Homo sapiens: one gene and its partners. The protein of the gene in region 3 interacts with the protein of the main gene of each other region in a pairwise test. Each region holds a gene or a part of one and is shown on either strand. Other genes may lie near its edges.

Region 1 (3,500 bases), on a different chromosome or scaffold from region 3:
GCATCATGTCAGCACTCAAAAGGTTTCAGATTTTGAAGCATTTTGGATTTCAGATTTGGGATTAGGAATACTCAACCTGTATTAAACAAAGCTGGTCCCTGAGGCAACTACTCAGATATTTTTTTATTTGAAAAGTTGCTCTTTATCATTAGATGTTGCTACTGCTTTTCCCAAAAATATCAGAGTCCTCATAACTTTTTTCTGTTAAAATCAAATAATATTTATTGGTATTTATGATTTATGATATATAGGCATATATCATAACTTACACACATATAAGTACCTTAAAATTACCTTAAGTTATTTTAGAAGATATGTATTTGTATCTCACATGTATTTTTGTATTTATTCATTCAGGAATATATTGAGTGCTTGCTATGTACAAAACTGAACATTTGTTTAAACACATAATTGCAGGATCAGATGTCAAGCAACCCAATTTCTAAAAGCCTCACAGAACTAAGTGAAGATTTAACAATTAACCCAGTTCCTCTAAATATATCAATATCTCCTATTTGTTGGAGTAATTTGTAAGCTCAAGTACAACTGAGAATGATAGGGACCTAAAGAATCGTGGCTTAATCAAGAGTGGCTTATTTTCTGTCCTCCCTGTGGTCATCCACAGTACTCAGGAATCCTGGTTCACAATGGCTACTGGATGCAGTAGCAAAAAGTTTTTAAAATAGAGCAAGGGGCCAGGCATGATGGCTCATGCCTGAAATCCCAGTGCTTTGGGAGGCCAAGGCAGGAGGATCACCTGAGGCCAGGAATTCAAGACCAGTCTGGGAAACATAGCCAGACCCTGTATATACAAAAAAAAAAAAAAAAAAATTGGCTGAGCATAGTATCACATGCCTTTAGCTCTAGCTACTCAGGCAGCTGCAGCAGGAGGATCACATGAGCCCAGGAGTTTGAGGCTGCAATAAGCTATAATCGTGCCACTGCACGCCAGCCTGGGTAACAGAAGGAGGCCCTGTCTCTAAAGAAATAAAGAAATAAACCAGAGTACAGTAAGTACCAGCCTTAAAGAAAAAAAGATAAATGACTTTAAAAAGAACTTCTGTTCATCAAAAGATACCAATAAGAGAACAAAAAGGTAAGCCACAAACTGGCTGATGATATTTTTTGCAATGCATATATCTAAGAAAGGTGTTAAATCCAGAGTATGCATAAAAAGCAGGCATGTCTCTAAAAGCAATGCCTAAATAGCCCATAAACATCTCATAAGATGCTCAATATCATCACTCATCAGGGAAATGCAAATTAACAACATGATGAAATGCCATTACCCACCAGAATGGCTAAAATTAAAAAGAATTACAATGCCAAATGCTGGTGAGGACGTGGAGCAACTGGAATACTTATAAATTCCTGGTAGAATTATGTATCGACGCAACCAATTTGGAAACTGACAGTATCTACTAAAGCCGCAAACATGCTCATGCTGTGGCCCAGCATTTCCACTCCTGGGAATATACCCAAGAGAAATGAGTGCATGTTGTTCACCAAATGAGGGGAAGTGGCCAAATGAGGCTTCACAGCAGCACCTTGAATTTTGTCTCCGAAGATGGCAGGTATTCTCTAAGTGCACAGACACTGGGAGCACCATGTAAAGTCATGGAGATACAAACGAGCATGAGGTGTTTGGGAGCATGGTAGTTGTAAACTGCTGGCGCACATGAGTTAGGATTCTAGAAAGACACAAGGCTCAAGGGGTAGGCCGGGTCTTGTAGAGCTTGCCAAGGAGTGAGTTTTGCCAAGGAGCTTGTTCAGGTTTGACTTTCAGAGAGATCACTCAAGAGGTATGCGGGGTGAAGCTAGGGAGGCTAAGTAACTCTTGGCAGGAAGCCACAGGGGGTGCTAATTATCACTTTGCTGCCATTTTACCAATTTGGGGGAATAAGTACTTTTACCCTGAATTATACTACCTGCCATTCTATGCAGAGAATGGAATTGGTATGTTGCTATAACTGATGATTTTCCAGAAAGCCTTACACTTCCATAATAGCGACAGGAAGAGAAGGTAGACAGATGACAATCCAGCAAGCATTTGCTCAACCGCCATCCTGTCTAGCTCAGCATCTCTTTGACAACTTTCAAACTTTCTACCAAAAACATCACTGATTTTACAAAACGTGTACGGGCTTTGTCCATTCTTAGGGTGAACTTTGCCCTTTCCATCCAAATCCTCTTCCTGTACTGACCATTCCAGAAAGACAACACAGGCTTTGCCCATGGCCAGCATCCTTAGTGAGTGTGTGAAAACCACCCAAAGGAAAGGGAAAGGAAAAGCAAAACATGGTATTTTTCTTTAGAGCAAGACTCTGATTTCTCAATGTGAACCCGTTGCCCAATTTTCTTGAGACAGCCCCAAATTTGTATTAGTCCCTGTGTTAAAATGGCCATCACGGGCTCATTACACAGCAGACATTGTCACACTGCTCATGTTTCTGCCAAGGAAAACACAAGAGGAAATGATCTTACTGGGAAAGAGGAGGTGTGAGGCTGAGGGTAAAGTCCCTGACCATGAACAAATCATGAGACTCTGCCAGGGCTCCTGGGGGAGGGGCAGAATCACCTTTACTAGCGATTTAAGAAGAAAAGATTCTTACCAAAAAGATAGCTGCACTCGTATGTTTATCACAGCACTGTCCACAGTAGCAAAGATATGGAATCAACCTAAGTGTCCATCAAGTGGATGACTGGAAAAAAAAATGCGGTATATATAGCATGGAATACTCCTTAACTATAAAAAGGAATGAAATCACATCTTTTACAGCCACATGGTTAGAATTGGAGGTCATTATCTTAAATGAAATAACTCAGAAACAGAAAGTCAAATACCACATGTTCTCATTTAGAAGTGAGACCTAAACAATGGGTACACATGGACATGCAGAGTGGAATAAGAGACACTGGAGCCTCCACAGGGTGGGAGGGTGGGAGGGTGACCAGGGGTGAGGGCTGAAAATTACCTATTGGGTGCGCTGTTCACTATTTGGGTGATGGGTACACTAAAAGCCCAGACCTCATCACTATGCAGTATCTGCACATAAGAAATCTGCACTTGTACTCCCTAAATCTATAAAAAGTAAAAAATTAAAGAGAAAGAATTGGCCGGGCATGGTGGCTCACGCCTGTAATCCCAGCACTTTGGGAGGCCGAGGCGGGTGGACCACGAGGTCAGAAGATTGAGACCATCCTGGCTAACATGGTGAAACCTTGTCTCTACTAAAAATACAAAAAATTAGCCGGGTGTGGTGGCACGTGCCTGTGGTCCCAGCTACTCAGGAGGCTGAGGCAGAAGAATCACTTGAACCCAGCAGGCAGAGGATGCAGTGGGCTGAGATCGCGCCACTGCACTCCATCCTGGCGACAGAGCGAGACTCTGTCTCAAAAAAAGAGAGAAAGGATTCTATCCATGTGCCAGGGTATGAGCCTCTTGACACCCAGATCCTTGAAAAAGATGCTTTGCCTCAGTGGTCCGCCGCAGACCCCTT
Region 2 (3,500 bases), on a different chromosome or scaffold from region 3:
TATATTGGGCTTATTTAAATTTCAAAGATAACATACATTTCCAAACCAGACTGCTTTACTTTTCTCCTTAAAGACAGTGGGTGAGAGGCACTGTAAGACTGACTCACACACCCTAGAGAACTGATTTTACTTTCAAATTCTTATATATACCTCTGGAGGGTAAGACCCTACTAGAAGTGCCCACATTACACCTTCCTTCCCCAGAAGGGGGCATCTCTCGGCCCCTCTCCCAACCTACAAGGGACCGTGTATTTCTCTCTTTTCTTTTCTCTCTCTCTCGCTTTTTGAAAGTGGTACGCCCATGGCTCACTACAGCCTCACACTCCTGAGCTCAAGTGACCCTCCTGCCCCTGCCTCTGAAGTAGCTGGGACTATCAGCGAGAGCCGCTGTGCCCAGCCGTGCTCCTCAAATGACAGCAGTGATATACCTTTTGCAGGAGCCTCATCGTCTTCTGGTTCTCCGCCCTCAGGATGCTCTGGGAGCTTCATCTTTTTCTTCTTAGAATCTGTTTCAACTAAGTATTTGGAAAGATTTTTTTTAAAGAAGATTTTGCATTTACGCTAGCAGCTACCATTTAATGAGACCTTATGCGAGCTAGGCAAACTCCACGTATCATCTCATTTCTTCTCCAAGCTGCCCAGCCCCGGTTTATAAAACCCCAGGAGGGTTTTATCCTCCTCCATGCTGGAGATGGGATGAAAGGAGTTGAGAAGTGAGGTCATTTGCCTGGGCAGGGCCCACCTCTGCCTGGCCACAAAGCTTATGCTCGTTCCCTTACTTGGTTCAAAACATAAGGTCTAGCTAGGTGCGGTAGCTCATGCCTGTAACCCCAGCACTTTGGGAGGCCGAGGGGGGCGGATCACCAGAGGTCAGGAGTCCGAGACCAGCCAGGCTAACATGGCGAAACCCCATCTCTACTAAAAATACAAAAATTAGCTGGGTCTGGTGACACACGTCTGTAATCTCAGCTACTCAGGAGGCTGAGACAGAAGAATCGCTTGAACCTGGGAGGTGGAGGTTGCAGTGAGCTGAGATCGTGCCACTGCACTCCAGCCTGGGCAACAGAGCAAGACTCCGTCTCAAAAAAAACAAAAAAAAAAAAAACCACACACACACGCACACAAAACGCTAGGTCTAACAGGCTTAAATATCCCAAATTCACAGCTTTCCCGGTTTTCAGATGAATCCCAGAGCGTGAGCTAGCCACTTACCTTCCGAGTGCCTCCGCTTCCTCTTCCCTGCGCCCACGCGTGCCTCTTCCTCACTGGCGCTGTCCTTGCGCTGCTTCTTCTTCTTGCTCCTCTTCCCTGCAGAGCCATTGGCCTCAGGGACTTCCTCCCCACCAGCCTCAAGGTCAGCCTCCTGTCCCTTTTTGCGCTTCTTAGGCTTCTGATTCCTTGAGTTTTCCTGGTGGTTTTCTAACTTTAGTTCTTTCTTTTCTCTTTTCCTTTTCTTCTGCCGTTCTTCCTTTCTTTCTCTTTTATTCTTCTTCACCTCCCCTTGCTGTTCCACGGCGTCTTTCACTTTGGAGGCTGGAACCTTGGTGGAGATTTCTGCATGTGGATTTGCCACTGGGTGGAGTGGCCGTTGATCCTGTTCCTTATTGACTGGTTCCTTATCATTAAGCAAAAGCAAGAAACACATATTCATTTTAAATGTGTAAATAGAGTTGTCACGTTATTGCCTGGGCCTACTACATAAACTGTTCAAGAAAAACGGTTGGTTTAATCCCTTATCGTTTTATAACTGTGACCCCCACCAACAGCTAAAATGTAGCAGTAAATATACAAAATGGGAAACCACTTCCCCCAGTCCACACCCCTCTGTCTGCACAGAACAGACATTTTCATTCCACTGGAAAAGTGAAGAATCCTTATGTCGCTGAAGATAAGACCTTTCATTCCAGCTCACTATTCACCTTTTAGATAAGAGAAGAGTACTTAGGGGTGGTAGAAACCACTGGATGTTATGTGTCTGCAGACCTGGGTTCAAGCTCCAGTTCTATTAATTCCTAGTCAGGTGACTAAGGGCAAGTCATTTATCTTTTCCAAACCTATTTCCTCATCTGTAAAATGAAAGGTAGTAATACCTACCTCACACACGGACGGATGAAACGAGGAAAGATCCGTCATGTGCTTATTAGCATAACACATGCCCAATAAACCAGCCCATTGTGTGTGAAGAGTTTTGTAAATTATCAGCCTTAGAAAATGGTACTGTTATTATCATCATTATTCAGACTGGAAAGTTACCATTAGAAGAATGGTCACCATTCTCATCATTCTTTTTTTTTTTTTAATGGGGACAGGGGTCTTGCTTTGTTCTGTTGCACAGGCTGAAATGTAGTGGCACAATCTCAGCTCACTGCAACCTCCAGCTCCCAGACTCAGGCAACACGCCTGCCTCAGACTCCCAAGTAGCTGGGACCACAGGCGCAAGCTATCAAAACCGGAAAATTGTTTATTTTCTGTAGAGACGGGGTCACCATTCTTTACGTATGGAGGTGTCTCTCTAATGGTTACCCCTGTTAAATACATTACCTCATTTATGTATTTTTTTTGGGACAGAGTCTCACTGTCACCCAGGCTGGAGTGCAGTGGTGCAATCTCAGCTCACTGCAACCTCCACCTCCCAGATTCAAGTGATTCTCCTGTCTCAGCCTTCTGAGTAGCTGGGATTACAGGCATGCACCACCACACCTGGCTAATTTTTGTATTTTTAGTAGAGACAGGGTTTCACCATGTTGGCCAGGCTGATCTTGAACTCCCAACCTCAGGTGATCCGCCCGACCTGGCCTCCCAAAGTGGTGGGATTACAGGTGTGTGCCACAGCGCCAGGCCTTGCATTACCTTATTAAAATCAGCACATAGAGCCTACTTTAAACAGTGACATCAGCAAGTTCAGTCCCATTCCTTCCTGAACTCCCTCCCTGAGCCCCTTTCTCAAGAGATGACCTGGAGCAATTCATTGAACTGTTCCATGTTCCCTGATGCCTCTGGAGGGAAAGAGAGTGGCCAGTGGCTGCTTCCAGGTGTGAGAAACCACTGAGCTGATGCACCTGCAGGCGGGGGTTCAAATTCCGTCTCTGTTAGTCTAGCCAAAGGACAGGGTAAGTTACCTACAGTCTTCCTCCTTTGGGAGATTGTGGGTAGCAAGGACTATGTCCTCAAAACTGGACCAAATAAAAAAGGACAAGCTTTCACTAGAGTGCAAGGACTCAGGACTCAGACCTTAAGGCTCGATCCTTGGCTACAAGAGCAGCATTAGAAAATGGATACTGGGGAGGCTGAGGCAGGAGAATCACTTGAACCCGGAAGGTGGAGGTTGCAGTGAGCCAAGATCACGCCACTGCACTCCAGCCTGGGTGACAAGAATGAAACTCTGTCTCAAAAAAAAAAAAAAAGAAAACGGATACTGTAGGCCGGGTGCGGTGGCTCATGCTTGTAATCCCAGCACTTTGGGAGGCCGAGGTAGGGAGATCACCTGAGGTCAGGAGTTT
Region 3 (3,500 bases):
CCACGTAGTGGATCCTTCCCTCCTAGCCAAGTTAAGGGCAACCTTGTGTGTTGACTTCTGTGTTGCCCTCACATGTATCAGATCCTGCAAGACTATGTGTCATAAATTCTTTGCGTAAAGGAACGTGATCTAGTAGAGTCTTGAAATTTAGTGAGGGGGAGAATCCAGCATACAATCTTTTTAGATCTTGTCCAAGGAGTATAGTTACTAAACTCCAAAGGATTTCAGGCTGCCAATAAGGTAGTCACGTGGCATGGATCCATTTTAGTAAGATTCCTTTGTGTTTGTTTTTCTGAAAAGGATTCAGCGTCTTGGAAAGAGATCAGGAAAAATGCACAGGTTTCCTTATAGCATCCTGTCTCGCTAGAGAGCTCGTTGCTCCAAAGAGCTTCCTTTTCCTGGTATCTATACCTGGAGAAGTCATTGACTAATGATAACTGGAAATACCAGTAGAAGTCAGTGAATGCTTCCAATCTCAATCTCCTGTATACTTTTCACCAATTTTTTTTTTTATCAAAGAACTTGGATTCCACTATGATAGAAGAAGCCTGTCTTCCGAAAAGGACTTCTAGAGCCACAAAGTGCTTGGTTAACACCTTGGTGATGGTGAAAATCCTGTGCCCCTCCTGGACTACCATGTGCCCCTCCCCGGGTTAGGGTTCAGACTCTTGCTTTAGGATTTAGGAAACCAGAGAATATTCAGTGGCTTGGCTAGTATCCAGTAGCAGGTGGGCGTAGTTAGGAGGCGAGACCAGGTGTGGGTGTAATAGCCCAGCCTGTCCTGTCCCACACTAACACTGCACCACACTCAACGAGCTTCTACGGCTCGGCCTGCTCATCTGCTCCCAGCACCCACTGTCCCCAGATTATTTAGGTTGACTCAGCTTCTTTGTCATTGTCACTTGGAGTCTTCAGGCCTCGTTTCTGATCCTCTGCCCCACCTGCCCCAAATGTGCAAGGAAACCTCTTTCTTCCTGTCTGCCAAAGCCTGTCACTCATCATTCCCTGCTGTGGAGTAGAGCCCCAGGACTCCCTCCTCCTAGGCAGCAGCTGCAGGGGTGACCTGCTCAGCTGCTTCTGCTGCTTTGGGTGAAGAGAGTGTGACTCAGTAAACCCCAGAGACCATTCCTGAACGTCCCGTCATCTCCCCTAAGAAACTTTCCACACTCTGCCCTTCTTCAACCTTCCCTGCCGACTCTCAGCTCACCTCTCAGCTCTCCTCTCAGCACAGACTTCTGCAGTTACTGCAGTTTTCTGTGTTCCATCCTTTTAGTTGTTGTTTGTTTGTTTGTTTGTTTGTTTTGAGATGGAGTCTCACCCTGTTGCCCAGGCTGGAGTGCAGTGGCACAACCTTGGCTCACTGCAACCTCCGCCTCCCAGGTTCAAGTGATTCTCCTGCCTCAGCCTCCGAGTAGCTGGAACTACAGGCGCGCGCTGCCACGCCCAGCTAACTTTTGTGTTTTTAGTAGAGACAGGCTTTCACCATGTTGGCCAGGCTGGTCTCAAATTCCAGATCTCGGGTGATCCACCCACGTCAGCCTCCCAAAGTGCTGGGATTACAGGTGTGAGCCACTGTGCCATCCTTTAAAGGATGTGTTCCATCCTTTAAAACATGCCACAGTGAGCTAGGCCGTGAGCTTACTTCCTCTGAGGAGGGACCTGCTTCTGGCCTTCTGCCCTCTTCCTTTCAGCACTGTTTCTTCCTCCTCAGTCCCCCGACGTCCTGATTTTTTGTGTATTTGTTTCGTTTTGTTTTGCCTTTGGGAGACATGTTTCTGCACACGGCAGGCGCAGCCCACCGCCAGAACCCCTCACACCTGCCACCTTCCTCCCTCATTGCCACCTGCAGCTTAGGATGCTGGTTGTCAAAATGAAAATACAAAGTTATGCAAAACTCAGGTTGTATTTTCAGCCATGTACTTTTCATAGGCATAAGTTCTGGAACTCTGAAACTGAGGTCATGACAAAGCAGATTTGCCCTCAGAAGGTTCCAGAATCCTTGTGACGCCTTCCTGTTGCTAATGGTAGCACTGTATCTATCCTAGCATTATATCTACAGAGCAGAGGCAGGACCTTTGGCAGGAGACACATCCCTTCTCCTGTGATGTGTCAGTTAGTGTAGAGAAGCAAGCTGGCATGGACTTGAGAGCCGGGGTGGGTATCTGCCCCATGTGGCCTGGCTATGGCTGCTCTGTTCAGGGAGCCTGGGGTCAGGGGTGGCGGCCACCAACCTGTGCCAGAGAAGGCTAGTCTCTGCATGGACTTCAGTGCAGGCATACCCGGCCTGATGGGGAGGGCTGTGGGTGGAAACCACACAGAAAAGATGCCTCCTCTTGCTTGAATTGTGGTGTTAACTAGCCGGGAACGTATGTGTCTGGTTGCTGAAATTAATACCGCATTTGCCTGTGGGCTTATCTTTCAGGATTCCTTTGGGACCTCTTCCAGACACACCCTGTTCCGTAGCCTCTCGAGAAAGTAGTAAATTTTGCTGACTCTGCGTTATTGAAATCTCGCTTGGTCGTTCATTCTCATAAAATCTGGAATATGATTTATTGTTTATATATTGTAATTTTCACAGGGGTTTGAAGTAGAAATAGTTTTATCTCAAATTAGAATATTTCTCCTCTCAAGCATATGCCAACAACACATAGCAATATTGTAAATTTGGAAATCTGTGTTATTTCCGTGTTCACTCATGTTCAATTAGACAGAATTAATATATTCTGTAATGTTTTTAGTATCATTTTTAAAAACTAAAGATATTTACTTCAAAATAGTGAACAGTAAATTCAAAATAAACTTCCTTATTTAGTAACATAACACATATATTAATAAGCTAAATATCTAACTGGAAAGCACAAAACGGCTAGGTTATTGTGCAGTTACCAGTTCTACAGAGAAACCTGGCTTATCCTAAGTGCAATCATTATGTTGATCCATATATATATATACATATCCTTATATATACATATATTGATCATTATAATTGATCCTAAGTGCAATCATTATATTGAATGTGCTGTGTGTATTTGTAGGAGCTGTATTTTTCTTAACAGATGCTGTCTGTTAGCCTTTTCTTTATCTTACAGTTTAAATTTCAAGCATTTATTAGAGTAACTGCATGAATGTTTACACACACATACCCTGGCCTAAGATTTTTTTTTTTTTTGAGACAGGGTCTGCCACTATCACCCAGGCTGAAGTGCAGTGGCACAATCTCGGCTCGCTGCAACCTCTGCCTCCGGGGCTCAAGCAGTCCTTCCACCTCAGCCTCCAAGTAGCTGGGACCACAGGCACACACCACCATGCTGGGCTAACTTTTGTACTTTTTGTAGAGACGGGGTTTCTCCATATTGCCCAGGCTGGTCGCAAACTCCTGAGCTCAAATGACCCTCCCATCTCAGCCTCCCGAAGGGCTGGGATTACACGTGTGAGCCACCATGCCCAACAGTGGCCTAAGATTTTATCTTTTGGGTTTGAGAAAAAAAAATTCATTTCTC
Region 4 (3,500 bases), on a different chromosome or scaffold from region 3:
AACTGCAAGAGGAATAATGCTGAATAAATGAGAAATGATCTCTTCAGAATTAAACTGCCACACATAACCGTCACTAGAATAAGAAACCATACCCTTTTGGTTCCAAAAGCATGTTGTTTTATAGATCTGCCATTTACAGTAGGCTCAAAGCTTACTTTTTTTTCCTAAAGTGCTGATGAATGCTCCTAAACAACTGTAGGGAGTCTAACTCAATTTGAAAATAAAAATTCTATATTTATACTGATTTGTATAAGCAAGATATAGAAAACTATAAGGACACTTCTATTTTTTTCATTTTTTAGTATCAGATTATTATGTAAACAAGTAGACTACCACACAAAAAAAGAAAAACCATAATGGAAGAAAAAATTTGCTACTATTTCATCAGGCAAAAAGAGAAGCAATATTTCTAAAATTAAAAATGTCAACCCTGTATGTTGTCTCCCAGTAATAAGAATATGAAATTTAAGTATTCCCAGACTGCTGGAAGCTTCAACACAAATACTTCCTGGTTTAAAAAAAGAAACATATTGGCTAGGCGCGGAGGCTCACACCTGTAATCCCAGCACTTTGGGAGGCTGACACAGGTGAATCACGAGGTCAGGAGTTAGAAACCAGCCTGGCCAACATGGTGACCGTATCGATTAAAAATACAAAAATTAGCCGGCATGGTGGGCGCCTGTAATCCCAGCTACTCTGGAGGCTGAGGCAGCAGAATCACTTGAATCCGGGAGGCAGAGGTTGCAGTGATCCAAGATCGCGCCACTGCACTCTAGCCTGGGCAACACAGCAAGACTCCGTCTCAAAAAAAAAAATTATATATATATATTTATATATATATTTATATTTATATTTATATTTATATATATTTATATTTATATATATTTTATATATATTTATATGTATATTTATATATATATTTATATATATTTTTATATATATTTATATGTATATTTTTATATATTTATATATTTATATATATTTTTATATATTTATAATATTTATATATATTTATATTTATTTATATATTTATATATTTTTTATATTTTTTATATATATTTTTATATATGTAACTTCCTATCACATATTAACAATGAATGATTGAGTCACAAGAAAGAAAAACAATCCTGGATGTAGTACAGTTACAGTAAGAAAAAGTGCTAGGCTATACACTAGCATACTCAAAGCCCAGTCCTAGCTTTGGAATTATTAACTGGATACATTGAATAAGTTATGAATATCTCTAGGATTCATTTTCACCATCTCTATGAAGAACAAATCTGTAAAATCTAAAAAAAAAAATACTTGATTTCTATAAAGTAAACTACTAGTGTTTGCATATATCTGTTCCTTTATTTCATTTTCCTTTTTCTTTTTGAGACAGGATCTAGCTTTTTTGCCTGGAGTGGAGTGCAGTGGCGTGATCTCAACTCACTGCAACCTCCATCTCCCAGGATTCTCCCACCTCAGCCTCCCAAGTAGCTGGGACTGCAGGTGCATGCCGCCACCACACTCGGCTTTTTCTTATTTTTTGTAGAGACAGGGTCTCGCCCTGTTGTCTAGGCTGGTCTCAAACCCCTGGGCTCAAGCAATCTGCCTGCCTCGGCCTCCCAAAGTGTTGGAATTACAGGCATGAGCCACTGAGCCTGGCCTATTTCACTAATGATAATTCCTATTAATGCTTCATATCCTATTAGTACTTGATAAAATCAGATTCAAGTAGCAATACGTTAAGCTGAACCTCAGAAAAACGTCTGTGATTCAAAGAGCAATTCAGAAGTAGGAATATAATCCAAATATCTTTAATGGAAAAAAATGTTATGAAATGAAGATAATGCCACTAAGTCACCATTGGACAGGACACGAACTTGTGGTGTTTTTTAGGAATGAAGGCTTCAAATGAGCTATTGCTACTCTTTTCCTATTCCCCTTGGCTCAATACCACTCTTTTTGCAAGAAAGCTAACCAGATTTCTGAAAACAACTTCAGGACATAGGCTGTTATTTTTATCTATTAAGTGCACAACCCCGGACTTATGAGAACCAAAATCTAACCAACTACTTTATCACATCACACCAGTGAAACACTTCTGGGGTACAACTTACCTAACGTTTTTAGCCGCTCTTCGACGAGTCTGCCTTTTGGGAGCTTCGTCATCATCATCATCCTCATCAGAAGAATCTTGCTTTTTTCTCTTTCCACGCTGAGTCTTCGGCTGCTTTTTAACACGAGGTTTGGGCACTGTTCTAAAATGAGAAGAGAAACAAAAGGCTAAGTCTTCACTTTATCATTTGGTGTCTACTTTATATAACAGTATTTCCCAGAGCAGTGGTTCATACATCAGAATGTAACATTTCACTTGGGGAATGTTAAACATGCATATTCTTGGGCCCTACTCCCTGAAATTCTAATTCACTAGAAATCTGGATTTCCAACAGGAAGGTCATTCTAATGCTGATAATCCTCAATCATTTATGGGAAAGAACGTGAATGTTTCACAAATGTTCATCAGGATTACCTGATATAAAAACACATACACAGCATGTTGTTCATGATAGTATCTCTTTGGTGGGCAAACTGGAAATAGCTATCAAACTATTTTACTTGTAGGAATTAACAGTTTTACTTGTAGGAATTAATCCTATTGATATACACCTAAACAGGCATAATAAAGTATTCACTATAGCATTATTTGCAACAACAAAACATTAAGAAAACTCTAAATATTCTTCAACTGGAAACTAAACAGTACCATGTACTCATAGAAAAAAAAAAAGAGTTTTTTGTATACTAATACGAAAGGATTTCCAGGATAAAGAAACCTACAGAACAAGCAGCAGAGGATGCTATTATCTGTGTGAAGAAAGTAAAGCACAAGAAGTAACTATACATAAGTTTTTACTGTATGTGTATAAAATATACCTGGAATACTACCTGAGAGACTGTGTGCCCTATCACAGAATTAACTTGGACAGACCAGGGAGATGGCCAGGATTGAAAGCCACAGTCTAGAAGCTCACCTAAGGAAATCCCCAAATATTCCATCAGTGATAAAAAGGTGAAAGAAGTCAGAGAGGGAGAGAAATGGATACTCATGATCACATTTATTATCTCTTTCTCTCATACCTCCCATACCTTTCTCATAACCAAACCTAAACAGATGATCAACGATGTAATAAATAATGAGCAAAATTCTAAAAGACAGAACTGGCGTGACAGTTCTGAGATAAACTTATTAAGCTGAGATAAAATAAGATAAAATTCAGTTGACAAATTCCCCTGCTGGTGTTGGGGGGTAAGTACAATGTCCTAGGCCAGAGGTTGGCAAACTTTTTCTGTAAATGGCCAGAGAGTAAATATTTTAGGCTCTGCCAGCCAAGAGGCAAAATGGGGACCAATGTATAGGTCCTTACATAATGAAAGAAAATAAATTTTCACAAATTTTTTTAAATAATTCAAAATGAAATAATCAGGTACATTTACTGCAATATATATCTACT

The links.
Region 1: the proteins of BEND7 (region 3) and FAM124A interact in a two-hybrid assay, tested with the Homo sapiens proteins (one large-scale study listed by BioGRID and IntAct).
Region 2: the proteins of BEND7 (region 3) and LYAR interact in binary tests that used the Homo sapiens proteins (3 or more experiments, as listed by UniProt).
Region 4: the proteins of BEND7 (region 3) and CHD2 interact in binary tests that used the Homo sapiens proteins (3 or more experiments, as listed by UniProt).

The regions. Positions count from the first base shown.
Region 1 is NC_000013.11:51,274,398-51,277,897, forward strand, and holds part of FAM124A (protein FAM124A), read left to right. Parts: intron 1-3,500.
Region 2 is NC_000004.12:4,273,155-4,276,654, forward strand, and holds part of LYAR (cell growth-regulating nucleolar protein), read right to left. Parts: intron 1,616-3,500; coding exon 1,213-1,615; intron 516-1,212; coding exon 429-515; intron 1-428. UniProt on the Homo sapiens protein: Plays a role in the maintenance of the appropriate processing of 47S/45S pre-rRNA to 32S/30S pre-rRNAs and their subsequent processing to produce 18S and 28S rRNAs. Also acts at the level of transcription regulation.
Region 3 is NC_000010.11:13,501,515-13,505,014, reverse strand, and holds part of BEND7 (BEN domain-containing protein 7), read left to right. Parts: intron 1-1,421; exon of another isoform or gene 1,422-2,154; intron 2,155-3,500.
Region 4 is NC_000015.10:92,938,324-92,941,823, reverse strand, and holds part of CHD2 (chromodomain-helicase-DNA-binding protein 2), read right to left. Parts: intron 2,247-3,500; coding exon 2,106-2,246; intron 3-2,105; coding exon 1-2. UniProt on the Homo sapiens protein: ATP-dependent chromatin-remodeling factor that specifically binds to the promoter of target genes, leading to chromatin remodeling, possibly by promoting deposition of histone H3.3.